6 linked regions of the Homo sapiens genome follow. The protein of the gene in region 4 purifies or fractionates together with the protein of the main gene of each other region. This does not show direct contact. Each region holds a gene or a part of one and is shown on either strand. Other genes may lie near its edges.

Region 1 (4,607 bases), on a different chromosome or scaffold from region 4:
CTCTTATCTGGCCCCACCCACATCCTGCTGATTGGTAGAGCCGAGTGGCCTGTTTTGTCACGGCGCTGATTGGTGCATTTACAATCCCTGAGCTAGATACAAAGGTTCTCCCCGTCCCCATCAGATTAGTTAGATACAGTTTGGACACACAGGTTCTCCAAGGCCCCACCAGAGCAGCTAGATACAGAGTGTCGATTGGTGCATTCACAAACCTTGAGCTAAACACAGGGTGCTGATTGGTGTGTTTACAAACCTTGAGCTAGATACAGAGTGCCGATTGGTGTATTTACAATCCCTGAGCTAGACATAAAGGTTCTCCACGTCCCCACCAGAGCAGCTAGATACAGAGTGTAGATTGGTGCACTCACAAACCTTGAGCTAAACACAGGGTGCTGACTGGTGTATTTACAATCCCTGAGCTAGACATAAAGACTCTCCACGTCCCCACCAGACTCAGGAGCCCCGCTGGCTTCACCTAGTGGATCCCGCACCGGGGCTGCAGGTGGAGCTGCCTACCAGTCCTGCACGTACGCTTGCTTTCCTCAGCCCTTGGGTGGCTGATGGGACTGGGCGCCCTGGAGCAGGGGGTGGTGCTCGTCAGGGAGGCTGGGGCCGCACAGGAGCCCATGGAGTGGGTGGGAGGCTCAGGCATGGCGGGCTGCAGGTCCCGAGCCCTGCTGCGCGGGAAGGCAGCTAAGGCCTGGCGAGAAATCGAGCTTAGCGCCGGTGGGCTGGCACTGCTGGGGGACCCAGTACACCCTCCGCAGCTGCTGGCCCGGGTGCTAAGTCCCTCATTGCACGGGGCCAGCAGAGCTGGCCGGCTGCTCCGAGTGCGGGGCTTGCCAAGCCCACGCCCAGCCGGAACTCCAGCTGGCCCGCAAGCGCCGCACGCAGCCCTGGTTCCCGCTCGCGCCTCTCCCTCCACACCTCCCTGCAAGCTGAGAGAGTGGGCTCCAGCCTTGGCCAGCCCAGAAAGGGGCTCCCACAGTGCAGTGGTGGGCTGAAGGGCTCCTCAAGTGCTGCCAAAGTGGGAGCCCAGGCAGAGGAGGTGCCGAGAGCAAGTGAGGGCTCTGAGGACTGCCAGCACGCTGTCACCTCTCACTTGTGCAAGTATTTTGGTAAGATCATTTTCTAAAAGTAGGGATTCTGGGTCAAAGGTTATATATATTTAAATTTTTGACAGATATTACCAAAATGCCCTCCAAAAAAAAAACTGTACTGATGTAGATTATCTGTAGCCACGGAGGACACACTTCTCCATCCCGCCCTGGATGATACTGGCTACTACTTACCTATCAACTGTGTTTCTCTGCTCCAGTTCTGCCAAGACCTATGAGGCCTTCCGGAGAGGGAGGCCTTGAACTCACACCCTTGCTTTCATCTGCTAACAGCATTACATGTAAAAAATATTCTTTTTAGCAAAGAGTGACAAAAGGTGCTGCTGCTAAACGGAGTATGAAAATCACTGCACTACAAAATGCCCAGAACGTGTTCATCCACTCCCGAACCCTCGACACGGGGACCACCTCCCCAGTCAGCCTTCCTTCCTGTACTTGAGTTTCCTCCCTCCACAGTTACCAAGTCATTCCTGCCTGGAGTCTGGCAGATGGCAAATATCCAGCATAGACTTGCTGTCAGCAGGGGACGGGGGGAGGGTGCAGTCCCACCTACACACTCTACTGGCCACGCTAGGACCCCCAGGCTTGCACCTGTGTGCCCCCTTCTTCCAGCCACCATCCTGCCAGCTCCATCTCCTCTAGACCAGCCACCTCCCATTGCCACTGCCTTCCTGTGGACCCAGGTCCTCCCCTCTTCTGAAACACTTCTGCCCCACCTACCTTTAGAAACCCAAGTCTGAGCAGGTCACTATGCTGCTTAAAAATCCCAGATGGCGGCCGGTGGCTCACGCCTGTAATCCCAGCACTTTGGGAGGCTGAAGTCAGCAGATCACTTGAGGCCAGCCCCGTCTCTACTAAAAATACAAAAAAAAAATTTTTTTTTGTATTTTTACAAAGGCGTGGTGGCGTGTGCCTGTAGACAGAGACGAAACCCTGTCTCTACTAAAAATACAATTTTTTTTTGTTTTGTTTTTTACAAAGGCATGGTGGCGTGTGCCTGTAGTCCCAGCTACTTGGGAGGCTGAGGCACGGAAATCAAGTGATTCAAGTGAACCTGGGAGCCAGAGATTGCAGTGAGCCAAGACACGCCACTGTACTCCAGCCTGGGCGACAGAGTGAGACTCCATTTCAAAAATAAAAAATAAAATAAAATAATTCCAGATGGCCTCCTACCCACAGATAACACCTTTCAGGCAAATTCAAACTGTGAAGGAGACCCCCCCAGTGCCACCACAAGTGCTTCCAGCCTTCCTAGGCAAAGCTTCCCACCCTTCCCAGGACCCACGTAAATGCTTGCCTGGCATTTCTCACGCCCACTAAGGAAGTGCTGACTCGCGAAGGCCTGCCTTCGTGGGGCTTGCCTCTGCTGGGGCCCACCTTCTGGTTATAAGTCATACTGAGTGGATGGAAATGACATGGCAGAGGAGTGAAGAGGCTTTTAGGCAGACTGGAAACACCTCATCTGAGCAGTCTATGAACACCCCCTATCTGTGGCTGCTCATCCTGCTCCCTGGGGTGTGGCTGAGGGAGAAGAAAGTGAACGGCAGAGGCCTGCAGTAACTGCATGCGGACTATCCCCGGGAAGCCAGTGTGGGCACTTAGCGGGGGCCGCTTCCTGCACAACCCGGGAACGGGTCTCAGCTGGCATGGAAGGCCAGGGCAGATTAAAATAGATACTTGAGTGGGAAGAAGACAGTCAATAACACCCTGTTCCCACAAAAGAGGTCTGGCTGGGGCTCTGAGGTCTTGCTGACCTGCTGAAGCGGCCAGGCCAAGCTGGAGGGGCCAGACAGCGTGCTCATCACTTGAGCCCCATCTGTGGTGGCAAGGACGGCTCCCCTCTACCTACCTAGCAGCCTTAGACCTTGTAAAGAATTAAAACATTGAATTTAAAAAATGTTTTTAAAGTACCCAATGTCGACAGATTACTCTTACAAAGTGAGCCAAAACCATCACGCAAGGCAGCAACAACTGTAATTCAGAAGGCCTAGGCTGAGCTACTTCATTCCAAACTCAGATTCAAATTTGTTAAGTTTGAAGGAAAAAATAATAATTTTCCCCAATCTAACAGACCCCATTTCATTACTCCTTTATGATGCATTTTTAAAATGTAGCATCTATATATATCAAGAAAGTCTCAAAGTTGGGATTTATAATATTTCTTATAGGCATGAAAATGGGATTTCTTTTCCCTTTCCTCATTCTTTTTTTTTTTTTTGAGATGGAGTCTCGCTCTGTCGCCAGGCTGGAGTGCAATGGTGCGATCGTGGCTCACTGCAACCTCCGCCTCCCGGGTTCAAGCGATTCTCCTGCCTCAGCCTCCCTAGTAGCTGGGATTACAGGCGTGCACCACCACATCCAGCTAATTTTTGTATTTTTAGCAGAGACAGGGTTTCACCGTGTTGGCCAGGATGGTCTCGATCTCCTGACCTCGTGATCCACCCGCCTCGGCCTCCCAAAGTGCTGGGATTACAGGTGTGAGCCACCGTGCCCAGCCTCCCTTTCCTCATTCTTTAAAAATAACATAAATGTGTAGTTTAATTTTTCATTCAACTGCGGGAAAGACACTAGAAGAGATGAAAGTGCTATGGGTTCCAACTCCAAGCAGGGCTGTCCCAGCCAGAGCACTCCCAGAACCAGGTGGGTCCCTGGGGGTACAGGAGAGGCTCTGGTTCACAGGGCTCTGTGCAGCATTTCTGTGGGCACTTCTAGTGGAGGGGCTGGAGGGTCTGCCAGCCTGGAGGACTCCGCCCACCCAACAGCACCTGCAGCAAGAGGACCCTCTGTGGGCTTTGTGTTGGGTTATTCAGGCAGACAATCTGAAAATGGTCTGCAGAGATCCCTGAGTAAAGGCCTAAGTTTGGGCTCAATTTGAGAAGAATGGAGAACAAAGAAAAATTAGCCAAATAACATTCACAAGATAAAATAAGCATAAAGGCAAAGAGACTAATTAAATGCTGATTATAATACTCAAAAGCGAGGCTCAACGACCTGGCCAATGAGTAGTATCAACAGGCTTGGAAGTAAAGAAGCAGATTAAAGACGAAATGTTCCATTAACAAAAGCATCATGATCTAGCATCAGGCAGGCTGCTAGAAAACTCCACGGGAAAGGAAGGGCCAGGGAAATACTGACAAGAAAGAGGAAGGGTGAAAAATTAACCTTAAAAGATAATTAAATGTACCATGAAGATTTAAGAACTAAAATAGTTTGGTGCTGGAGAAGGAGAGAATGTCCATAAGTAGATCAGAAAACATGTGGGAATTCAGTGCATGGTAAAGGTGGCACTGCAAGCAGGGAAAATAACAAATATTCAAAAACAGCAGTGGGAAGATGTGGCTAACCGAGGCCCCCTTATTCTTCCCACCAAAATAAATTCCAGGAGCCTCAAAGAATTACAAGTAAAAAATGGAACCATGAAAGTTCTAGAAAAAAGAGATCAATACCTATAATTTTAGAGTGGGAAAGCCTTTCTAAGTAGGACCAAAA
Region 2 (4,607 bases), on a different chromosome or scaffold from region 4:
AGTCTGTCTCTTCTTAAACCCCCACTTCCTAGCCCTGCCCCACTTCCTAGCCCTGCCCCACTTCCTAGCCCTGCCCCACCTCGGAGCCCTGCCCCATCTCGGAGCCCTGCCCCACCTCGGAGCCCTCCCCCACCTCGGAGCCCTCCCCCACCTCGGAGCCCTGCCCCACCTCGGAGCCCTGCCCCACCTCGGAGCCCTGCCCCACCTCGGAGCCCTCCCCCACCTCGGAGCCCTCCCCCACCTCGGAGCCCTGCCCCACCTCGGAGCCCTCCCCCACCTCGGAGCCCTCCTCTCCATGAAGCCTCTGCTGTAAGAAGCCTTTCCTTGGCCACACCCTTCCTGCCCATTCTCAAAGCCCCGCCTCCCAGGCCCTGCTCCTTCTCAGCCCCACCCCTACACGAAGGCCGGTTCGCCTTGCTTCTGCTGCTGCTGCCCCCACCCCTTACCCTCCCCAGCTCCCTGCGCCTGGGGTGGGCGGCCTTGAAATCAAGTCTCCATCCACACCTCCACCTTCAGTTCTGCGGCTTGTGCGCCCCTGACCAGGGCTCCAACCTCGCCCCCACCCCCCCGCCGGTACACTCTGTCCTGCCCCAGCTGTGATTTCTTCTGCCCCACCCACCCGGCTTCATCCTGCCCTGGGGCCCGCCCTTCTCCACCGCGCCCATCACGGACGGTTTGAAGTCCCTCTCTTCTTTTTGTGGGGCTTTAGGCTGCCAGGGGCCACCCCTGGGGCCTCCCTTCCCTGGTCCTCTCAGCTCCCAGTACAGTCACCAGGGGCCCGGGCCCGCAGCTGTAGGAGGGGGCGGCTGCTCCTCCACGTGCAGGTGGGGATATTGGCCTCAGCCAGAGCCTCGTCTTAGTCTTGTGGACTCTCAGGGATGGGACGACTCTGCAAATGGGGCTGTCCTGGGCCCTGCAGGGCTCTGAGCAGCGTCCCCGGCATCCACCCACTCGGTGCCAGAAGCACCCCAGTCCTGACCACCACAAATGTCCCAGACCCTGCCCATTGCCCCCCGGTCGGGGTTCCACCGACCCCAAGACACTTCATCCCATCGCCATCTGCCCCCCGCCGCCCCAGCCACACCGATGCCTCTTTCGGGCAGGGTTCCCTGCTGAGGCCGGGCCACAGCTTTCTGCGGGACGGCACCTCGCTGGGCATGCTTCGGGAATTGATGGTGGTCATCCGCATCTGGGGCCTTCTGAAGCCCAGCTGCCTGCCCGTGTATACGGCCACCTCGGATACCCAGGACAGCATGTCCCTGCTCTTCCGCCTGCTCACCAAGCTCTGGATCTGCTGTGAGGCACCCCCGCCCGCCCCTCCCCTCTCCCCGCTCCCCGCTCTCCCCTCTCCCCGCTCCCCGCTCCCCGCTCTCCCCTCTCCCCGCTCTCCCCTCTCCCCGCTCTCCCCTCTCCCCGCTCTCCCTTCTCCCCGCTCTCCCCTCTCCCCTCTCCCCGCTCCCCTCTCCCTACCAAAACACAAGTCCTGCCTGAGCCCCCCGCCAGAACATAAGCCCCTGCAGGTGGCAGTGGCTCTGCCTTGATATCTGCTATTTCCCCAGTTCCTAGCACAGGTCCATGCTCTGTGTGGGTGCTTTTGGGATGGCAGCCACTTCCAGGCACCTGTTTGCTGTCTCTCCTTGTCGGGTTGTGTGTATGTGAGGAGGGTGAGCTGTGTCATTCTTACATCCCAGTGTCTGGAAAAGGCACAGTGCTTCCCACATACTTTTTAAGTGAATGAGGGAGTCTCATGACAGGCCAGAGACGGGGAGAGAACTCTGGGGTCACCCAGCCAGGCAGGCAGAGCCGGGGCCCCGACCTGGTGAGAGAACCCCGGGGTCACCCAGCCAGGCAGACAGAGCTGGGGCCCTGACCTGGTGCTCCTGAACTGGAGGGGCTCCCAGCACGTCCCGGGTGGCCGGGCGGTGCCCCAGTCAGGGGTGCTGAGACTTCCGCCACCTCTCTCCGCAGGTCGCGATGAGGGCCCAGCGAGCGAGCCGGACGAGGCGCTGGTGGATGAATGCTGCCTGCTGCCCAGCCAGCTGCTTATCCCCAGCCTGGACTGGCTGCCAGCCAGCGACGGCCTGGTTAGCCGCCTGCAGCCCAAGCAGCCCCTTCGTCTGCAGTTTGGCCGGGCGCCCACGCTGCCTGGCAGTGCTGCCACCCTGCAGCTCGACGGCCTCGCCAGGTGCGTGTGTCCCTGCATTGGTCCCCAAACACAGGACTCCTTCCTCCGTGTCCTGCCCCGGGACCCCCGAATCCACACGGCTCCCTCCCTGCATGTCCTGCCCCAGGTCCCCCCGAATCCACACGGCTCCCCGCCTCCATGTCCTGCCCGGGACCCCCCGAATCCACACGGCTCCCTCCCTCCATGTCCTGCCCCGGGACCCCCCGAATCCACACGGCTCCCTCCCTCCATGTCCTGCCCCGGGTCCCCCCGAATCCACACGGCTCCCTCCCTCCATGTCCTGCCCCAGGACCCCCCCGAATCCATACGGCTCCTTCCCTCCATGTTCTCCAGTCATGGCCATGACTGCTGCTTCCTTCTAGGTGCCCCTAACTCCATCCCCTAGTGGTGTCTTCTGCTGTGTCACGAACCACCCCCAACACGGGCACCCAGCCCTTCCATTCACCCTCTCCCTTTTTTTTTTTTTTTTTGTCTCCCCGACAGGGTCTCACTCTGTTGCCCAGGCTGGAGTGCAGTAGTGCCGTCTTGGCCCACTGCAACGTCTGCCTCTCGGGTTCAAATGATTCTCCTACCTCAGCCTTCCCAGTAGCTGGGATTACAGGCATGAGCCACCACACCTAGGTATTTTTTGTATTTTTGGTATAGAGGCGGTTTTGCAATGTTGGCCAGGCTGGTCTTGAACTCCTGACCTCAGGTGATCCACCTGCCTCGCCCTCCCAAAGTGCTGGGATTACAGGTGTGAGCCACCGCCCCGGCCTTGCCTTGGTGTTTCCTGATTGTGTGTTGGCCTCGCTGTACAGGGCGCCCTGCCTTAGCCTCTGCCCTTAGTCTCTGGCCCCCCTGGATGTCAGGCCTCGCCGTAGATCCCTCTGTGGATGGAGAGAGACGCCTTAGCATATGGCCCAGGGCCCTGCTGAGCAGACACCTCATCAGGAGGATCTCCCGGGGGCAAGAGGTCACCTTGCAGGGCCCGGGGCTGGCCTTTCTCTGGAATGTGCGGGGTTTGGGCAACCCAAGTGTGCTGAGCTGACCCTGGCTGCCCAGCAGCCCTGTGAGGTGGGACCTTGTCACCCCATTTCACGGTGAGGAAACCCAGCCTGGAAAGGGTGGGACCTTGTCACCCCACTCATCTGGGGTCACGCGGTCAGGAAGTGGCCGAGTCAGGATTTGAACCCAGGCCCGTCAGACCCCCAGCCTGTTTCAGACACACGTTTGACAAGGAGCACATGCAAACCCTCTGAGCCACTGATTGCTCAGGGCTGGAATTTTAGAAAACACAGATGAGCAAAAGGAAGAAAATGAAGTGAACCTCCAGCAGCCCTGCTCCGGGGAAGGCCCCGGCTCGGCTCCAGGACCTCCAGGGAAGGCACCCCCGGCTTGGCTCCGGGACCTCCGGGAAGGCGCCCTGGCTTGGCTCTAGGACCTCCAGCATTTTCTTCCTCGTGCTCACTGTGGGAGGGGCCTCCTAATGAGTCACACACGAGGGTTTGGGTTTCAGGAAAAGACTTGATGGAAAGAGAGGACGGTTACGTCAGAGGCTTGTAAACTGGGAAAATTTCAGATATTTAATGAGAGCAGAATAAGCCGGCCCACCCCCACCCAGACCCAGGTCCCCCACCCACCACCGAGGGCAGCTTTTGCCACCAGAATCTTGTCGTTCAGAGGTCCCGGCACCTCCAGGCCGGGTGTCTGGGCAGAGGTGGTGTGGAAGTCCCCATGTACCTGCTTCTGTCCAGCCTCAAATGGGAGCGTCACAAGCACCTTCCCTGCACCTCAGGCTCCCCGGGCACGTGGCGGACCGACCCTCGTCCCTGTGTGGGCCCCGTCCCCTTTACTGGGTCTCTAAGCCTCAAGCTCCCCAGGCACCTGGGAGACCAACCCTCCTCCGTGTGGGGGGTCCCGCCCCCTTTACTGGGCCTGTCTCAGGTGGTCCCGCACCTCCCACCTCACTGTTCACAGACATCTGGGCCCACCTGGCAGATGGTGTGAGGCCGGCCATTCCCTCCACCCCCGCCTGTGGACAGATGCCCCTGCCGGAACCTGGCCTCGTGGTGCCCAGGCCTCCCTCACGTTCTCCCCTCTCCCGCCAGGGCCCCAGGCCAGCCCAAGATCGACCACCTGCGGAGGCTGCACCTTGGCGCTTGCCCCACGGAGGAATGCAAGGCCTGCACCAGGTGAGGGGCCCCCGGAACCGCTGACTCCCAGAGATGTGCCGCTGGGGATGGCTCAGCTGATTCTAGCCCCCACCCAGCGCTCCAGACGGTCAAGGGTGGTGGAGGGAGCACGTCCCAGAGGGAGTGTTGGAGCCAGGATCCCAGGATGTGGAGCAGTTAACTTGGTGTGGCGGGGCTAGTTCAGGGAGCAGCATTGCTGGGGGGAGGAGAAGCATGGGCAGAGGCCCTGTGGCAGGTGGGGACGTGGG
Region 3 (4,607 bases), on a different chromosome or scaffold from region 4:
TAATTACCCTTCAGAAAAGTTAACTCAGTAATACTAGAACATTGACTATATTTTTAAAAATGAACTGAATCCCCTATTTGAAGACAAGGATCCACTTTTTTTTTTTTTTTTTTTTTTTTTGAAACAGTCTTGCTCTGTCGCGCAGGCTGGAGTGCAGTGGCATGATCTCAGCTCACTATAAACTCCACCTCCCAGATTCAAGCGATTCTCCTGCCTCAGCCTCCTGAGTAGCTGGGATTTATCAGCACAAACCACCACGCCCACCTAGTTTTTGTATTTTTAGTAGAGATGGGGTTTCACCATGTTGGTCAGGCTGGTCTCGAACTCCTGACCTCGTGATCCATCCACCTCAGCCTCCCAAAGTGGTGGGATTACAGGCGTGAGCCACCACGTCCAGCCCACTTTTATATTTTATAGCCTTTCTCTTAAATGTAATCACTTTCATAAGAAATAAAATTAGGATTTTATTCTCCAATGTTTTTTTAAAGAAAACAACTTCTTTCTTTTCCCAGATGAGTAAAGTTCTTGTGATTCCAGTAAATATCACATTAAAAAACCACTTAGTTCCCAAAGACTTGTCCTTTATCCCAGACCTCCATTTTGTAAATGTGAATAAAAACTCCACAATTGGAAATGGAAATATGTCAAATAGAAAGCATCACTAATTCATAGTCAAATCACAAAATAAACTTTTAGTATTAGATGCTGAGGGCACAGAAAAGTCCTGCGATAATAGCACAACTAAAGGAAGGCTTGGCTGAATATCTCTGTCATGGAAACAAAAAAGACAGATGGAAGAGCATACTTAACAGCTTCTTGTTTTTACGTAATTCAGAAAAGCAGTAAGTGGAGTTCACATTGCTTGGCCTCTAATAGCTGATAGTATGTTCAGAGTAATTGTCAATAGGTGATTCCTATCCACATTTCCCCAGACAGCTCCTCTGTTTTCCCTTTTCACTTTGCCAGTATGGAACCTACCCTGTGCAAGGTATTGTGGTAGATGTTGGGAACTCAAAGGTGTAAAGAAAGCTAGCCACATTTGTGCAGTGATAAAACAAGTAATTCCCCAGACCGGCTGGTGACTTCTGCACTGACTCTTGACGAGCAGGGCTTCACATGCCACATGTAGGTGAGGATCGCTTTTAGATGTTCTCAAAATATGGACCCCAATCCAAACCTGTCTAACAGTAAGGAGAGTCTGGACATACAGATGTTAAAACACAGTGGAGATGATCCTGGACTCCTACATGAAGACTACACAGAACATTATATTGGACTGGGGATTGTTTCTTCCTTAAATACCAGGTTCTTTTAGGGAACATTGGCAGGGCTTTCATTCCTTGTATTGAATATTCTCAAGTCGTGATATTCCCAGTGGTTTTGTTTGCTGTTATGGCTGAGACACACACACACACACACACACACACAACACTCTCACTCTCTCTCTCTCTCACTCACTCATGCCCACACTCTCCCTGTCTTCTTCTTGTTGATTTTTTTTTTTTTTTTTTTTTTTTTTTTTTGCTAGGAGGTTCAGTTCATTGGCTACTTAATATCTATCTCCAGTTTGGTCAATTGTTGATACATCTTTTGACATTTCTGGTTTTCTTGCATTTGATATTTACTCCTTTGCTCGATTTTCTCCACTTTATTCTTGTTCTTTCTCATGTCTTTTGCTTTCCTGAATCTCAGTTGAATTCCTGACAGGGTTTGACTTAAAAAAATCATTATTGTGGTGAGACCTCTCAATATAAGATCTATCCTCTTATTTTTAAGAATACAATACAGTACTGTTAACTGTAGTATAATGTTGTGCAGCAACTCTCTGTAGTTTATTCGTTTTGCTTAACTGAAACTTGATGGCTGTTGAGCAGCAGTTCACCGCCATTCTACTCTGTGTCTATGAGATTGGCTATTTAAACTCCTCATATAAGTGGAACCAGGCAGGATTTGTCCTTCTGTGACTGGCTTATTTCACTTAGCATAATATTCTCGAGGTTAATATATGTTGTTGCATATGGCAGGATTTTCTCCTTTTAGACTGAATATTCCTTTATATGTCTATATATATCACATTTTCTTTATCTGCTCATCCGTTGATGGACAGTGAGGTTGTTTCCACATTTTTTTTTTTTTTTTTTGAGATGGAATCTGGCTCTGTCGCCCAGGCTGGAGTGCAGTGGCACGATCTCAGCTCACTGCAAGCTCCGCCTCCCGAGTTCATGCCATTCTCCTGCCTCAGACTCCCGAATAGCTAGGACTACAGGCACCCGCCACCATGCCCAGCTAATTTTTTTGTATTTTTTTTAGTAGAGACGGGGTTTCACCATGTTAGCCAAGATGGTCTCGATCTCCTGACCTTGTGACCTGCCTGCCTCAGCCTCCCAAAGTGCTGGGATTACAGGCGTGAGCCACCGCTCCAGGCCTCCACATTTTTGCTATTGTGAATAACACTGTAGTGAATATGGGAGTGCTAATATCTCTTTGAGATCCTGATTTCAATTATTTTGTATAAATACCCAGAAGTGGGATTGCTAGATCATGTGGTACTTCTAGTTTTAATCTTTTGAGGCATTTTCATACTGATTTCCATAGTGGATGCACCATTTTACATTCCTACCAACAGTGTATAAGGATTTTTTCTCCGTATCCTCACCACCACTTGTTACCTTTTTTTTTCTTTTATACAACCTACAAATTGGGAGAAAATTTTTGCAACCTACTCATCTGACAAAGGGCTAATATCCAGAATCTACAATGAACTCAAACAAATTTACAAGAAAAAAACAACCCCATCAAAAAGTGGGCGAAGGACATGAACAGACACTTCTCAAAAGAAGACATTTATGCAGCCAAAAAACACATGAAAAAATGCTCACCATCACTGGCCATCAGAGAAATGCAAATCAAAACCACAGTGAGATACCATCTTACACCAGTTAGAATGGCAATCATTAAAAAGTCAGGAAACAACAGGTGCTGGAGAGGATGTGGAGAAAGAGGAACACTTTTACACTGTTGGTGGGACTGTAAACTATTTCAACCATTGTGAAAGTCAGTGTGGTGATTCCTCAGGGATCTAGAACTAGAAATACCATTTGACCCAGCCATCCCATTACTGGGTATATACCCAAAGGACTACAAATCATGCTGCTATAAAGACACATGCACAGGTATGTTTATTGTGGCACTATTCACAATAGCAAAGACTTGGAACCAACCCAAATGTCCAACAACGATAGACTGGATTAAGAAAATGTGGCACATATACACCATGGAATACTATGCAGCCATAAGAAATGATGAGTTCATGTCCTTTGTAGAGACATGGATGAAATTGGAAATCATCATTCTCAGTAAACTATCGCAAGGACAAAAAACGAAACACCACATGTTCTGACTCATAGGTGGGAATTGAACAATGAGAACACATGGACACAGGAAGGGGAATAACATCACACTCTAGGGACTGTTGTGGGGTGGGGGGAGGGGAGAGGCATAACATTAGGAGATATACCTAATGCTAAATAACGAGTTAATGGGTGCAGCACACCAGCATGGCACATGTATACATATGTAACTAACCTGCACATTGTGCACATGTACCCTAAAACTTAAAGTATAATAATAATAATAATAAAAATGAATAAGAAAAAAAATAATAATGGCCAACTTAACAGTTATGAGGTGATATCTCACTGTGGTTTTGATTTGCATTTCCCTGATGGTTAGTGGTGATAATCGTCTTTTCATATATCTATTAGCACATTTGTGTATCTTTTTTAGAGAAATGTGTATTCAAGTTCTCTGTGCATTTTTTCATTGGACTATTTGAGTGTGTTTGTTTGCTTTGAGTCATAGGAGTTACTTATGTATTTCGCATATTCACCCCATACCAGGTATATGGTTTGCAAATATCTCCTCCCATTCTATAGGTTGCCTTTTCAGTCTGTTGACTGAAAGTTTCCTTAGCGCAGACACTTTTTAGTTGAATGTAGTCCCACGTATTTGTTTTTGCTTTTTTTTTTTGTTGCCTATGTCATATCCAAGAAATCATTGCTAAGATCAATGTCAGGGAGCTTTTCCCCTATTTTCCTTCTAAGAGTTTTATAGTTTAAGGTCTTATAGTTAAGTCTTTAATCCATTTTGAGTTGACTTTTGTATATAGTGTAAGAGATAAGGTCCAGTGTCACTCCTCTGCATGTGAATATCCAGTTTTCCCAACACCATCTGTTGAAGAGACTGTTCTCTTTCCCCGTTGTGTATTCTTGGTGCCCTTTTTGAAGATCAGTTGACCATATACGTGTGAGTTTATTTCTGGGCTCTCTGTTCTATCCTAGGAATTAACATTTATTTCCCTTGTTATCCACACCATTTAGTGAGCCCATCATTCTTTTCATCTGTTTGTATTTTTGTGGGTGATAGAGAACTACTGCGATTTAAAACCTCCTAGATAGTTGAAGACACCAGATAGTTGAGCTTAAAATGATACTTAATTTGTTGTTATATTTTAGGTCTATCATATGCAAGTCACACGGTTGGTTTCACGCCACCAACTTCACTGACTAGAGCTGGAATGTCTTATTACAATTCCCCGGGTCTTCACG
Region 4 (5,152 bases):
TCACTTTTTTTATGGACTGCTTTTGCAAAGAGAAGTATTTTAAATTATACGGCAAAATCTCTCCTTCTCTGTGTATTCTGACTGTAGATCAGAGATCAGCAAACTAAGTCTGGCTTGCATCTGCTTTTGCAAATAAAGCTTTATTGTAAATAAACTAAGGCTCCTTCCCTCATTCCTTTACCGTTGCCTTTAGCTGCTTTTGCACTGCAATAGCAGAGCTGAGTAGCTGCAAGAGCATAGCTCTCCAAGTGGAAAATGTTTACCATCAGATCCTTTACAGAAAAAGGTGGCTGATCTTTGCATTAGATGTGTCGCCCAGGAAGCCTAATTCCCACCCTAAGACATCGATCTATTTTTAAGAAAGAAGGGGAAAAAATACTTACTAAGTAGGTCCCTTATCCCACCCGTGGCTAAGTTATTTGAAGAATCCATTCTATTTCCACTGAATCATTTAAAAAAAAAAAAAATCTTAACTGTTTTTTTTGTTTTGCTTTGTTTTGTTTGAGACGGAGTCTTGCTCTGTCGCCCAGGCTGGAGTGCAGTGGCTGGATCTCAGCTCACTGCAAGCTCTGCCTCCCAGGTTCAAGCCATTCTCCTGCCTCAGCCCCCCGAGTAGCTGGGACTACAGACGCCTGCCACCGCACCCGGCTAATTTTTTTGTATTTTTAGTAGAGACGGGGTTTCACCGTGTTAGCCAGGATGGTCTCGATCTCCTGACCTTGTGATCCGCCCGCCTCGGCCCCCCAAAGTGCTGGGATTACAGGCGTGAGCCACCGCACCCGGCCAACTGTTTTTAAGAGTACAGTTTGGTGGCATTAAGTGCATTGACATGTGGAACCGTCGGCACTATCCACCTCCAGAACTTTTTATCTTCCCAAACTGAGACTCCGTACCTGTTACTAACATTAACTTCCCATCCTCGACTCCCTCCAGCCCCTGGCAGCTACCATTCCACTTTATGAATGAGACCACTCTGAGTACCTCATACAAGAGAATCTGTCCTTCCGTGACTGGCATATTTCATTTAGTATAATGGCTCCAAGTTTCATCCGTGTGTCTGACTTTTAAGGGTGAATACTTCATGGTTTGTGTTGTTTACCCATTCATCTATCAATGGACACTGGGGCTGCCACCACCTTTTGGCTAGTATGAATGATACTGCTGTGAACATGGATGTATGAATACATGCTTAAGTTCCGGCTTCAGAGTCTTGTGGGTATATATCCAGAAGCGGCATTGCTGGATTATGCCGTAATTCTTTCTTTGAGAAATCCTCATCCTGTTTTCCATAGTGGCTGCACCATTTTACAGTGCCCTCCATTAACACTTTTTCAGGCTTTTGAAAAACTTAAAATATTTGCTCCACAATTTTTGCATGCTTTATTTAGTGTATGTACAGAAAAGCCTTTCCATGTTCTCTACCAACATTTTTTGAAATAACCTATTTGAACTTTTTTTAGGAAATGTGTTATATTGTTTAAAGTGTCAGTGAACTGGCTGGGCGAGGTGGCTCACCTGTAATCCCAGCACTTTGGGAGGCCAAGGTGGGCAGATCACTTGAGGTCAGGAGTTCAAAACCAGCCTGGCCCACATGATTAAACTTTGTCTCTCCTGAAAATAACAAAAAAAATTAACTGTAAAAAAAAATCGCCTGTAATCCAAGCTACTCGGGAGGCTGAGGCATGAGAATCACTTGAGCCTGGGAGGTGGAGGTTGCAGTGAGCCAACATCACACCAGTGCACTCCAGCCGCAACAGAGCAAGACTTTCTCAAAAAACAAACAAACAGGCAGTGAATTGTTTACGAAGACCTAAACGGCATTTTTTTTTTTTTTTTTTGGGACGGAGTCTCACTCTGTCACCCAGGCTGGAGTGCAGTGGTGCGATCTCGGCTCACTACAAGCTTCGCCTCCCGGGTTCACGCCATTCTCCTGCCTCAGCCTCCCGAGTAGCTGGGACTACAGGCGTCCACCACCACGCCCGGCTAATTTTTTGTATTTTTAGTAGAGACGGGGTTTCCCCATGTTGGCTAGGATGGTCTCGATCTCCTGATCTCGTGATAAGCCCATCTCGGCCTCCCAAAGTGCTGGGATTACAGGCGTGAGCCACCGCGCCCAGCCCTAAATGGCATTTTAAATATCCGGATATGCTTTTACCACATTACACTAAGGTACAGCCAGCCCCCCATTTCCATGGATACTGCACCCATGAATTCGACTAACCTCAGATTAAAAATATTTTGGGAAAAAAAGAAATTCCACAAAGTTCCCAAAAGCAGAGCTTGAAGTGATGTGTAGGTGTAGCATTAGGTGTTATTAGTAATCTGATTTCAAATATAGTAGAGGATGCGCTGAGGTTATATGTAATTACTACCCAGGTCATTTTCTATCAGGGACTTGAGCATCCACAGTCGGTCCTGGAATCAATTCCCCACCGCCACCCACACCAGAAACGCTACTGTATTTACTTCATCCCTCAAAGACTGGCTGTGATCTAAAGCCCTCATCTACAGCCGTTTCCTGAGTCATTATCATTATCACCTGGGGAGCTTTTGAAAAGTAAAGAATCTAGGACTCCACCCAAGCCTCCTGAATTAATTTCCAGAATCTGTTATCAGTCAAATGCTTCCCCAGGCCATTCAGGCGGTGAGCCATGTATGTGAGCATGTCTGTGACTAGCTTGCCACAGAGGTATATTATTCTCATTTTGCAGATCAGTAATCTGACACCAATGTCATGTTCATCCTGTTGGCCCACCTGGTGCCTCCAGGCTGCAATGCTTTTGCTTATACTACTCCTGCCTCCTTTCTAGACCTGGAGAACTCCTACTCATCCCACAAAGCCCAGCTCAATAGCTGCCCCATTTGTGGGCCTTCCCAGCAGGCACTGGGAATGGCACTAAGCCCTGAGCTACCTTAGCCTCGGCTTCACCACGCAGGACCACATTATCTCATGTGGATAAGCTTGTGCCTGTGGTCCCTTTACGGGGGGTGTTCCTGGGGCCAGGGCTGGGCATGGACATTGCTGCGCTCCTAGACCTGCACAGAAGTGAGTTTTCCAGTGCGGGTGAGAACGGCCCCCTCTGACCCCCACCGCGGTCCCACACGGGCAGGGGTCAGTGCGCAGCCCTCCCCACAGCCTCCCCTCGTGCCCAGGACTCACTCTGCTGCCCTGGGAGGCCCTGGCCCATTCCCTACGCGAGGGATTGAACCGCACGACCACAGTCACCCAGGTTCTCCCCTCCTCATCTTCGTAGATGCCAGGCCTCTGGATCCACAGACGGCCAGGGGGCACCCCTAGACGCACAGAAGCTTCGGAGGCCATGGCAAGTCTGCAACCGGGACCCGCCTCTAGGCTCACACGTGTAGCTTTCCAGCTGCGCAATCTCCTTAAATGGAGCAGCTCCGGCGTGGGTGGGGCCCGGGCCGGCAGTGGGGGCGGGGCCGGCAGTGGGGGCGGGGCCAGTCGGGGGAGGAGGGGGAGGAGGAGGAAGGGGGAGGAGGGAGGAGGGAGGAGGGAGGAGGAGGAGGGGGGAAAAAAGCAACCTGCAGCAGGGGCTAGGCAGGGACGAGGCCAAAGAGCAGCGGAGTTAGGAACCCGGCCTGGGTCTCCTGGAGGGGCTGTGGCTGGACCGGCAGCTGCTGGAGGCAAAAGGGCGGCTCCCGGGGATAGAGCTGCCCAGGCTTCACCCCAGGCCTCTGCAAGGAATTTGGCTCCTAAGACCTATTCCACCTCCCTTCCACTGGTCCCAGTCCCTCCGCAGCCTCCTCCCTGAGCACCCCTGCCCAATTTTCTGTCAGGTGATTCCCCTCCTTTGCTCCCCACGACCCCCTGCCAACCATCCTGCCCCAGATCCTGAGCTGGCATGCACGACCCTGGTCTCTCCTATCCCTGTGGCCATTCCTTTAACAGGACTCTGTGTCAGGGACCCTTCTCTGAGCTTAGAGCTTAGAGGCATGGGGGGCGGGGGGCGCTGTAACCTCAGTGGACTCTTGCCCCTGGAGGTATCTGGTGAAGGCGCATCCTGCACAAATCAAGCTCCCTCTCCTTAGAAAATAAGCCAGTGCACTATCAGCATCTGAGCTCAGGATCAGATAAAGCCCACAGAAACAAGGCCACCGGAGGCCACGTGGCCACCTGGCCAGCCCATCCTTGGCCATGGGGCCCAGAGTGCCCACTTGGCCTGGTCGTCTTACTTGCTCGACTTTGTCAAGAGGCCTCAGAAGCTCAAGAACATAGCAAGAAGCAGGTCCGTTCTATAAGCACCCTGGGCTGCTTCTAAATGCACCATGAATAGGAACCTTTTCCTTTTGAAAACCACAAGCATGATTCTTCTAGTTCAAGTGAAGATTAGTATTGAGATGATGCCATTCTGCTGGGGAGATGTGAAAATGATTTCTGGACAGTCCTGATCCAGTGTAAATGGCAGGTAGGATAACCACTTTTGAAGAACTCCCTGGGCAGCTTCTGTGGAGGACTGAGTCTTGTTTTCACAGCAATTCCACCTCCATCCCCAGTGTTTTTCCAAGGAACCAACACTTGGGGTGGGAATGGAGTGGGCCAGGAAGACAAGGGACATCACAGTCTCATATAATGTGATCCATACATGGAATCACGTACGTGTGTCACCTTTGCCATATTCCATTGGTCAGGGGTAGGTCCTATCCTTACTCAAGGTTATGAATACCAGGAGGCAGGGATCATGGGGACCCCTGGTCTCCTGGGCCCCCCTGAAGCCTGTTTGCTGTAGGTACCTACCCTATGGGACTCCTCTGAGGATCAGATGAGGCTGTGTGTATAGTGTTAAAGCCTGACACATAGTGAATACTTGAAATACCCTGGTCAATAGTTATGTTCTCAGACTAGTTCCCTCTCCCAGGCAGAATCCATCATTCCTACCCTTGTAACCCCAATGCAATTGCTATTTATCTCTATCATTTTCTGTTGCAAATATATATTTTGATATTCTCAACCTCACTCCCTGATGGGCAGGTGTGTGGCTGTCAGTGGGGTTGGAGGTAAAGGTTGCCTAATATGTGGGGAGCCCCTATGCCATGTCAGGCATTTTTCATAGGGTATCTCACTAACACCTCCCAACAACTCCATAAACTAGAGACCGTCACCCCCATTTCATAGATGAAGTATCAGAGGCTT
Region 5 (4,607 bases), on a different chromosome or scaffold from region 4:
GGTTACCTCTCTGTACTTAAAACCCTTCCATGGCTTCACTGAGCCTTTTACAGGTTCTGAAGCAGCCATCCTGGCCTTTTTTAGAGTTCCTTAAGCCCACCATGCAGCTCTTGTCTCCGTCCTCTGCCAGCAGGGCCCTTCCCTCCCCTGGCTAACTTCTCTTCAGCTTCAGGCCTTAGCTGAATTGTCGCCTCTTGTCCCTCTTCCCATAGCGTCCTTCGCTCCCGCAATGGGGTCCTAGTCACATTGCATGTGAGTTGCTGCTCATGCCTGTCTCCTGCATGGGACTGAGCCCTGTGGGTGCAGGAACCACATGGCTCCTCTGTTATTCCCCAGCGCCTTACTGGGGCACCTGATGTGTGTGGGCAGTCACCAAACAGTGGCAGGTATTGACCAAGGTGTAGGTTCCCGGCAGGCTGAACTGCCCCTGGGAGGTTGAGGGATCAATCACCAAACCCCAGGAGGGAAGGGAGGAGAGTGAGGAGGAAAGTCAGGACTTGTCTTCGGTGGTCGGTCTGCCTCTCCTCACACCTTCTCCAGTGATTCAGAGAGTAGATTTGGGGGACTGAGAAGATACACAAAGGACAGAAACTCATGCTTCAGAGATGCTGATGTCATATAAGTAGTTTCCCTGTCTGGCCTTGGATGTTTATATACATATGTGTTGGTAAAAAGTGTTAAAAAGGAAAAAAATTTCCCATTCTTGAAGCGGACAGATGAGTTTTCTTTTCTATAAGGTAACTGGTGACATGTATTTCTTTTTTTTTTTGAGACGAAGTCTGGCTCTGTCGCCCAGGCTGGAGTGCAGTGGCACGATCTTGGCCCACTGCAATCTCCACTTCCCAGGTTCAAGCGATTCTCCTGCCTCAGCCTCCCGAGTAGCTGGGACTACAGGTGTGTACCACCATGCCTGGCTAAGTTTTTTGTATTTTTAGTAGAGATGGGGTTTCACCATGTTGGCCAGGCTGGTCTTGAACTCCTGACCTCAAGTCATCTGCCCACCTCAGCCTCCCAAAGGGCTGGGATTACAGGCGTGAGCCACTGTGCCTGGCCAATCCACAGACATTTCTAGTTGATCTGGGGTCTCCAAGGGATCCTACCTCCCGTAAGGAACTGGGCCCATTTCGAAGTTGCGAACAATGGACAGGGAGAATAAAAATGATGAAAGAAGTAGAAGCTGGCATTTGTTAGCCTTTATTCTGTGCCAGGCCTTGACTGAGCAGAACCTAGCACATGAGGGGAGGGCACTCTTGTGACTCTCATTTTCTAGAGGGGCAAATGGAGGCTCAGAGAAGGCTGATGACCTGCGTAAGATCATGTAGCGAGTAAGTGTCTAAGTTGGGCCTGGGCTCTGGCTGTTCTGGGCTGGAACGGTGGGGTGCTTGGGGAGAAGCCAGAGATGAGCCTTGGGCCAGGGCTTTGGCAGAAGAGCTTCTGGACCATGGTCAGGGGCCAGGATCCTGCCTGGAAGGCAGTGGGCCCAGTGTCTCCAAATGACCTGTTGACAGACTGGAGCAGACGGGGCAGCTCAAGCCAGCAGACGGTGTGAAGTGCTTGGCAGGAACCCGGGGTCGTGTCTGTGGCACATTTCTCTCACACCCTGGGCGGAATGCAGTGGGACGGCTGGTCCCCACAGCGGGCTTGGCTTGTAAAGCTTTTCTATTGGAGCAGGAGCCGAGCCGAGCCACCCACTCTTGTCCCTAAGCTCCAGAAGTAGCTTCCCACGCCTCCCAGAGACAGATGCTCTGGTAAGAATAGTGGGACGCCACCTCCACCAGCAGCCTTAGGGACAGCACCTGCCAGAGGGCGTCAGGGGTAGTCCAGGGCGGTGAATGCCCACCCTCCTCTCCACTGCCATCCCTGACCCGACTTCCCCCCAAAGGCAGCCACCAGGTGAGGCCCAGGCTGGCCCCATTGTTATCTCAGGGGTTAAGGGCTCCCCTTCGGCCCTCGTTGTGGGTGACGTGGCAGGGGGCCCTGGAAACAGATCCATCCTGTCCTCTCAGTGCTCCCTGAACCCTGGCTTGGGATCTTTGTGCCTGAGGAAGTGGCTGCTGCCCATTACTGTGGGGTGACTGTGGGCTGGCACTATACCTGGGTGAGTGATAGACACACCGGCATTGAGCCTGAGCCCCATTATCTCCCTTTGCCTCCTGTCTGCCCTCCCAGGCTCAGGTGGCCTTCCTTCAGGGAGAGAGGAAAGGGCAGGAGAATCTAAAGACGGACCTGGTGCGGCGGATCAAGATGCTAGAGTATGCGCTGAAGCAGGAAAGGTGAGCCTTCATCCTGCCCTGGGCCTGCCTTCTGGGTCCGTCTCAAGCACAGTGTCAGGAGGCCACCAGCCACGCCTCCTTCCAGCTAAGGGAGATTTGGGGTCGACATTCTTTTCCATCATTCCAGTACCATAAGATTCTAGGGGAGAAACAGGACAGAGTAGGTGGGATTTGGGTTAGACACCAGGAACGATATTCACGATGCTAGTGGCCCACTGTGCGCCAAATATCGTATAGTCCTTACCTCCGTTATCCCTTATACCTTCCAATAGCCTAACGGGTATTGTTAGCCCTGTTTCAGATAAGGAACTGGGGTTTCAAGGGCTGATGGTTTCCTCAAGGACCCCTGAGAGCAACCTAGGTTGCCTGACTCCAGGGAGTGGTTTCTTCCACCAGGCCAGGGGTGTGGGGGGATGCTTCAGCCTCAGTAGTAGACGAGCTGGGGGAGGCCCTGTGATTTGGGGTTTGGGATTCTGGATTCCTTAGGTAACTACTGACCCTGTCTACTCTCCCGCATCTCTTATTCATTAATCATTTGCTCTTTTAGGGCCAAATATCATAAACTGAAGTTTGGGACAGACCTGAACCAGGGGGAGAAGAAAGCAGATGTGTCAGAACAAGGTACCCACCCTCTGATGCTCGCACTGTCGGCACCCTCCCGCAGAAGCTGAGTGTTCTGGAGAAGCAGGAAGATGGGGTGCCTCTTTCTCACTTTGCTCCTTAGAAGGCAGAATCGGCCCCGGGGCTGGGGAGGGGCGGAATCTCACTCTCAGAGCCCTCCCTATGGGCTGCCAGGTCCCGTGCTGGACCCTGGGGGCCAGTCCCGCTTGGGTCCCCCTGTGCAACAGAGGCAGACACACGAGCAGCTCACGGGATCCCTTTGCGAGGAGTGGGCGCCAGGGCTATTTATAGAGTGCTGGGGACGGTGCGGGAAAGCCGGGGAAGACGTCACTGAGGAGGTGGCGTTTGAACAGGGTTGCCGTTCAATCGTTCATCCAAAAAAGACTTTATTTGTAGGGTACAGGCTTTGTATCACAGATCAGGAATACAGCAGAGAGCACGGGAGACATGGTCTCTACCCTCTGGTCCCTTAGAGTCTAAGCTCCTTGAAAGATGACTCCGTTCCCCAGCAGGAGAGTCAGGGGAGAGAGCACAGATACAGAGACGCACGCTGAAAGGGTTAGGGGACAGGGAGTCGGTCAGTGTGCCTGGGCAAACAGTGTAGGGCAGAGGATGTGGGAGGGCGGGCTGGGTGAGGGGGAAGCTTGGCCGAGGCAAGCTGAGAAGACCTTGTGTGCTCAGCTGATAGTGATGGTCATTACCTGCTGCCAGCTCCTCTCACTAGAACGGAAGTTCCACAAGGGCAGGTCTTTGTTTACCCATGTAGCCCAGGCCCCTGGCCAGGCACAGCGTAGATGCCCAGGAAAGACTTGAATAAAATACTAAGCAAATTATCTCATTGCATCCTCTCAGCACTCCCAAGAGGGAGATGCTGTTATCATTAAGCTCATTTCTCAGAGGACGAAACTGACACGGCTTACACTAACTCAGGGTCACACAGCTGGGATGGGGCAGAGCTGGGCTTGAACCCAGTCGGCCCTTCTCTCAGAACCAGGCCAGCTTTCTGGTTTTGAGATAACACCCTTATCTTGTCGGGGGCCAGTTTGGGGAACCACCAGTCAGGAGACCTAGAGATGAGGAACGCTTCAAGGAGGAGGAATCCCCGAGTAAGGGAAGAGAGCAGGGTTCCAACACTCAGGAAGTGATGCCACAGGACCTGCGACAGTGACCGATTTGGGTTGGAGGGGTGAGGAAGATGGAGGAGGTGATGGGTAGGTGGCAGTGGCCTGACTTAAGACAGCCTCCGTTCTCTCACCCGCCAGTCTCCAATGGCCCCGTGGAATCGGTCACCCTGGAGAACAGCCCGTTGGTGTGGAAGGAGGGGCGGCAGCTTCTCCGACAGTGAGTGTGCTCGGGGAGGGGGGCTGGGGACACGTGACACGTTTGGCTTGAGAGATAAGTCCAAAGACTCCACAGTCCTTTTCCGTCCCCACTGGGGATGCTGAACTATCAGGATCTTAGCCAGCCATGGCTGGAATGGCTTTCACCCTGTGGGCGGAGCCTGGCCTGGGGAGAGGGAGGGAAACCCGCTGCAGGAGGCAGACGTGGGGACACCCCTGTTGGAATGTGTCCCTGAATGCCTCTGTGGCTTTTTTTTTTTTTTTTTTTTTTGTCTCAGTGGCCATAGGAGCCCTGTGTGGCTTTTTTTTTTTTTTTTTTAGATACCTTGTGAAGATTTATGAAGCATGGCTTTTTATTTCCCAAGGGTAATAT
Region 6 (4,607 bases), on a different chromosome or scaffold from region 4:
ATTGTATTCCAACCACAAAGTATCCTGAAAAAACCTACTACTCAAAAAAGTGCAGAAAAGTCTCCACAGTGAATGTTTTCATCAGCTGATATTATAAATGTCAATCAATTACTAATTAGGCTGAAAAGATGTCTTTTTAGTAAATGCACTATGCTAGTGATTTCCTAACCTAGCTAACATAAAAACTACCTCAGAAATCTGTATTAAAGAGGTTCCTAAACCATAAATGCAAAATCTCTTTTTTTTTTTTTTTTTTTTGAGACAGAGTCTCCCTCTGTTGCCCAGGCTGGAGTGCAGTGGTGCGATCTCGGCTCACTGCAAGCTCCGCCTCCCGAGTTCATGCCATTCTCCTGCCTCAGCCTCCTGAGTAGCTGCGACTATAGGCACCCGCCACCACGCCCGGCTAATTTTTTTTGTATTTTTAGTAGAGACAGTGTTTCACTGTGTTAGCCAGGATTGTCTCCATCTCCTGACTTCGTGATCCACCCACCTGGGCCTCCCAAAGTGCTGGGATTACAGGAATAAACAACCACGCCCGGCTGCAAATTCTCTATTTTTAATAAAACACCTATATAATAATAATGCAGCCAGAATTTGGTAACCACTACTTTAGTCTATTGTAAAAGATTCAGATAAATACAAGTCCAGATGAGGTTTTGGAACGTTCCCTTATTATTATTATTATTACTTTTGAGACAGGGTTTCACTCCCATTACCCAGGATGGAGTACAATTGTGCAATCTTGGCTCATTGCAATCTCTACCTCCCAGGATGAAGCCCCTCAGCTTCCCGAGCAGCTGAGACTACAGGCATGAACAACCACATGTGCCTATTTTTTTTTTTTTTTTTTTTTGAGACAGAGTCTTGCTCTTGTAGCTCAGGCTGGAGTGCAGTGGCACGATCTCTGCTCGCTGCAAGCTCCACCTCCCGGGTTCACGCCATTCTCCTGCCTCAGCCTCCCAAGTAGCTGGGACTACAGGCGCCCGCCACCACACCCAGCTAATTTTTTGTGTTTTTTAGTAGTGACGGGGTTTCACCATGTTGGCCAGGATGGTCTCGATCTCCTGACCTCATGATCTGCCCGCCTCGGCCTCCCAAAGTGCTAGGATTACAGGCGTGAGCCACCGCTCCCGGCCACATCAGCCTAATTTTTGTATTTTTTTTTTGTAGAGACAGGATTTTGCCGGAGGATGAGGCAGAAGAATCGCTTGAACCTGGGAGGCAGAGGTTGCAGTCAGCCGAGATCGTGCCACTGCACTCCAGCCTGGGCACCAAGAGCAAAAAAAAAAAAAAGAAAAAAGAAAAGAAAAGGACAGGCAAGGTGGCTTGCGCCTGTAATCCCAGCACTTTGGGAGGCGGAGTAGGGTGGATCTCAAGGTCAAGAGATAAAGACCAATCTGGCCAACATGGTAAAACCCCGTCTCTACTAAAAATACAAAAATTATCTGGGCATGGTGGTGCACACCTACAGTCCCAGCTACTCAGGAGGCTGAGGCAGGAGAATCACTTGAACCTGGGAGGCGGAGGTTGCAGTGAGCCGAGATCGCGCCACTGCACTCCAGCCTGGCAACAGAGCTAGCTAGACTCCATCTCAAAAAATAAAAAAATAAAAAAGAGAGGATTTTGCCACGTTGCCCAGGCTGGTATTGAACTCCTGAGCTCAAGTGATCTGCCTTGCCTTGGCCTCCCAAAGTGCTGGGATTACAGGTGTGAGTCACTGTGCCCAGCCTCTTAATTACTGCTTCCAGCATTTTCCTCTCTGTAAGTACTTTCAGGATCTTTCCAGATTCTAAGCTCATGGCACTTGAAAGAATTAAACAGTAAGAATTTATAACACCTAATTATGATATTCTAAAAGTTCAAAATACCATTAAGAGTCTGTCACCCCGCCAGGCAAGGTGGCTCACGCCTGCAATCCTAGCACTTTGGGAGGCCGAGGCGGGCGGATCACGAGGTCAGGAGATCGAGACCATCCTGGCTAACATGGTGAAATCCCGTCTCTACTAAAAATACAAAAAATTAGCCAGGCATGGTGGCAGGCGCCTGTAGTCCCAGCTACTCAGGAGGCTGAGGCAGGAGAATGGCATGAACCCGGGAGGTGGAGTTTGCAGTGAGCTGAGATCTCACCACTGCACTCCAGCCTGGGCGACACAGCAAGACTCCGTCTCAAAAAAAAAAAAAAAAGTCTATCACCCAAAATTTCTTTTTCTTTTTTATTTTTTTGAGACGGAGTCTTGCTCTGTTGCCAGGCTGAAGCGCAGTGGTGCGATCTTGGCTCACTGCAACCTTCGTCTCCCGGGTTCAAGCAATTCTCCTGCCTCAGCCTCCCGAGTAGCTGGGACTACAGGTGCATGACACCACACCCAGCTAATTTTTGTATTTTTTTAGTAGAGATGGGGTTTCACCCTGTTGGCCAGGATGCTCTCGATCTCTTGACCTCGTGATCCACCTGCCTCGGCCTCCCAAAGTGCTGCTGGGATTAGACATGTGAAACACCACGCCCAGCCTCGTTTTTTTTTTTTTTTTTTTTTTTTGAGACGGAATTTCGCTCTTGTTGCCCAGGCTGGAGTGCAGTGGCGCAATCTTGGCTCACTGCAACCTCTGCCTCCCGGGTTAAGTGATTCTCCTGCCTCAGCCTCCCAAGTAGCTGGGATTACAGGCATGTTCCACCACACCCAGCTAATTTTTATATTTTTAGTAGAGACGGGGTTTCACCATGTTATCCAGGCTGGTCTCAAACTCCTGATCTCTAGTGACCACCCGCCTTGGCCTCCCAAATTCCTGGGATTACAGGTGTGAGCCACTGCACCTGGCCAATCACCCAAAATTTCAACAAAGAACTGTACATTGTTGTTTCCTAATGGAAGCTCATGCCCTTTTACTTCAATACATTTCCGAGATTTCTTTTTTTTTTTTTTTTTTTTGAGACAGAGTCTCGCTCTGTCACCCAGGCTGGAGCACAATGGCACAATCTTGTCTCACTGCAACCTCTGCCTCCCAGATTCAAGCCATTCTCCTCCCTCAGCCTCCCGAGTAGCTGGGATTACAGGCACCCGCCACCACACACGGCTAATTTTTTGTATTTTTAGTAGAGACAGGGTTTCCCTATGTTGGCCAGGCTGGTCTCGAACTCCTGACCTCACGATCCGCCTGCCTTGGCCTCCTAAAGTGCGGGGATTACAGGTGTGAGCCACCGCGCCCAGCCCATTTCTGAGATTTCTGTAATTTCCTGCCTTACTAAAGAAATAGGACATGATCCAGCAGTCTTGAAGAAACTTATCTGACCTCAATAATGCTATAAAGGAAGATTATGATCTTGGGTCCAAACATAACCTACAACATTCTAGCTCCCTAGGGCTTTACTTACAGCATAAAATCTCATGTTGTGATTCAAAGGTATGGGGTCAGGGTCCTTTGATAGCTCAAACTGAGTGATCAGTTCATACAGGGGTGCATAAGTTGGTTGAGTTTCAAACAATGGAATTCCTGGAAAAACAAGAATCAATATAATGATCATGTTAAGATGAAAACACTGACAGCTCAGTTTCCCCTTGATATCTACATTCATTCACCCAAAAGAGTACTTACTAAGCATTTACTAGTACAAAGCACTATAACATCTTTACCAGTAATACTTCAATGAGGCATGTAAGACTGAAAGACGTCATGATAACCTGACTTTGAAGTTTCTTTTTCACATTTATAACAAGTACTAGATCCTGATGCTCAAAACTCACCTGTGCAGTTCTGCAGTTTCTGAACAAATGCTCTAGATACTGGGATTGGCTGGGGAAATTTCAAGAAGAAACAGGCAGGAAGATCAACACTGTTGGCACTGGTGATTGAGGAGAAGGAAGGGGTCCTTCAAAAAAAAGAGGGTGGAAGGGTTGGATTCTGACTTGATATAAAAATGAAAAACCCAAACACCTTTTTTTTTTTTGAGACAGATTTTCCCTCTTAATGCCCAGGCTAGAGTGCAATGGCGTGATCTTGGCTCACTGCAACCTCTGCCTCCCGGGTTCAAGGGATTCTCCTATCTCAGCTTCGTGAGTAGCTGGGACTACAGGTGCCCGCCACCACGCCCGGCTAATTTTTGTATTGTTAGTAGAGATGGGGTTTCACCATGTTGGCCAGGCTGGTCTTGAACTCCTGACCTCAGGTGTTCCACTTGCCTCAGCCTCCCAAAGTGCTGGGATTACAGGCGTGAGCCACCATGCCTGGCCACAAACACCTATTCTTAAACATGTATGTATCACACAGACACATAAGTACAAACTCTCAAAAGCTCACTCTGTGAAACTTCCTACCCCCAATTCCCAGACATGCTATTGGTTAACACTGTAGAATTTAATCAAACATTTATCCTGAGGCATGTTCTCCAGTTATTACTCCAATGTAACTAATGAACGTAAGATAAAAGGGGGCACTCATTAAGCCAGAGGAATTAGCACAGTTCTCTTCTTTCCCTTTCAGTGCAGAGAATGTGTTCTACGAGCCGACTTTGGAGAGGAACACTCAGATATCAAACAAAAGAGAAACCAATGAATGGATAAAACAAAAGGCCAACCTCTAGAAATTCAAGTGGGGTAACAGCCAGGTTAAAACTT

The links.
Region 1: the proteins of TCL1B (region 4) and MED9 purify together in Homo sapiens (affinity purification with mass spectrometry; one large-scale study listed by BioGRID and IntAct). This does not show direct contact.
Region 2: the proteins of TCL1B (region 4) and MED16 purify together in Homo sapiens (affinity purification with mass spectrometry, with the first as the bait; one large-scale study listed by BioGRID). This does not show direct contact.
Region 3: the proteins of TCL1B (region 4) and CCDC6 purify together in Homo sapiens (affinity purification with mass spectrometry; 2 studies listed by BioGRID and IntAct, with this or other methods). This does not show direct contact.
Region 5: the proteins of TCL1B (region 4) and STRN4 purify together in Homo sapiens (affinity purification with mass spectrometry, with the first as the bait; one large-scale study listed by BioGRID). This does not show direct contact.
Region 6: the proteins of TCL1B (region 4) and MED1 purify together in Homo sapiens (affinity purification with mass spectrometry; 3 studies listed by BioGRID and IntAct, with this or other methods). This does not show direct contact.

What each region holds. Positions count from the first base shown.
Region 1 is NC_000017.11:17,482,665-17,487,271, reverse strand, and holds part of MED9 (mediator of RNA polymerase II transcription subunit 9), read right to left. Parts: intron 1-4,607.
Region 2 is NC_000019.10:868,615-873,221, reverse strand, and holds part of MED16 (mediator of RNA polymerase II transcription subunit 16), read left to right. Parts: intron 1-1,103; coding exon 1,104-1,296; intron 1,297-1,968; coding exon 1,969-2,185; intron 2,186-4,275; coding exon 4,276-4,359; intron 4,360-4,607. UniProt on the Homo sapiens protein: Component of the Mediator complex, a coactivator involved in the regulated transcription of nearly all RNA polymerase II-dependent genes.
Region 3 is NC_000010.11:59,794,505-59,799,111, reverse strand, and holds part of CCDC6 (coiled-coil domain-containing protein 6), read left to right. Parts: intron 1-4,514; coding exon 4,515-4,607.
Region 4 is NC_000014.9:95,684,638-95,689,789, reverse strand, and holds the start of TCL1B (T-cell leukemia/lymphoma protein 1B), read right to left. Parts: upstream 3,365-5,152; 5' UTR 3,323-3,364; coding exon 3,161-3,322; intron 1-3,160. UniProt on the Homo sapiens protein: Enhances the phosphorylation and activation of AKT1 and AKT2.
Region 5 is NC_000019.10:46,736,451-46,741,057, reverse strand, and holds part of STRN4 (striatin-4), read left to right. Parts: intron 1-1,671; exon of another isoform or gene 1,672-1,748; intron 1,749-2,169; coding exon 2,170-2,273; intron 2,274-2,820; coding exon 2,821-2,894; intron 2,895-4,156; coding exon 4,157-4,235; intron 4,236-4,555; coding exon of another isoform or gene 4,556-4,600; intron 4,601-4,607. UniProt on the Homo sapiens protein: Calmodulin-binding scaffolding protein which is the center of the striatin-interacting phosphatase and kinase (STRIPAK) complexes.
Region 6 is NC_000017.11:39,419,960-39,424,566, forward strand, and holds part of MED1 (mediator of RNA polymerase II transcription subunit 1), read right to left. Parts: intron 3,863-4,607; coding exon 3,738-3,862; intron 3,487-3,737; coding exon 3,368-3,486; intron 1-3,367. UniProt on the Homo sapiens protein: Component of the Mediator complex, a coactivator involved in the regulated transcription of nearly all RNA polymerase II-dependent genes.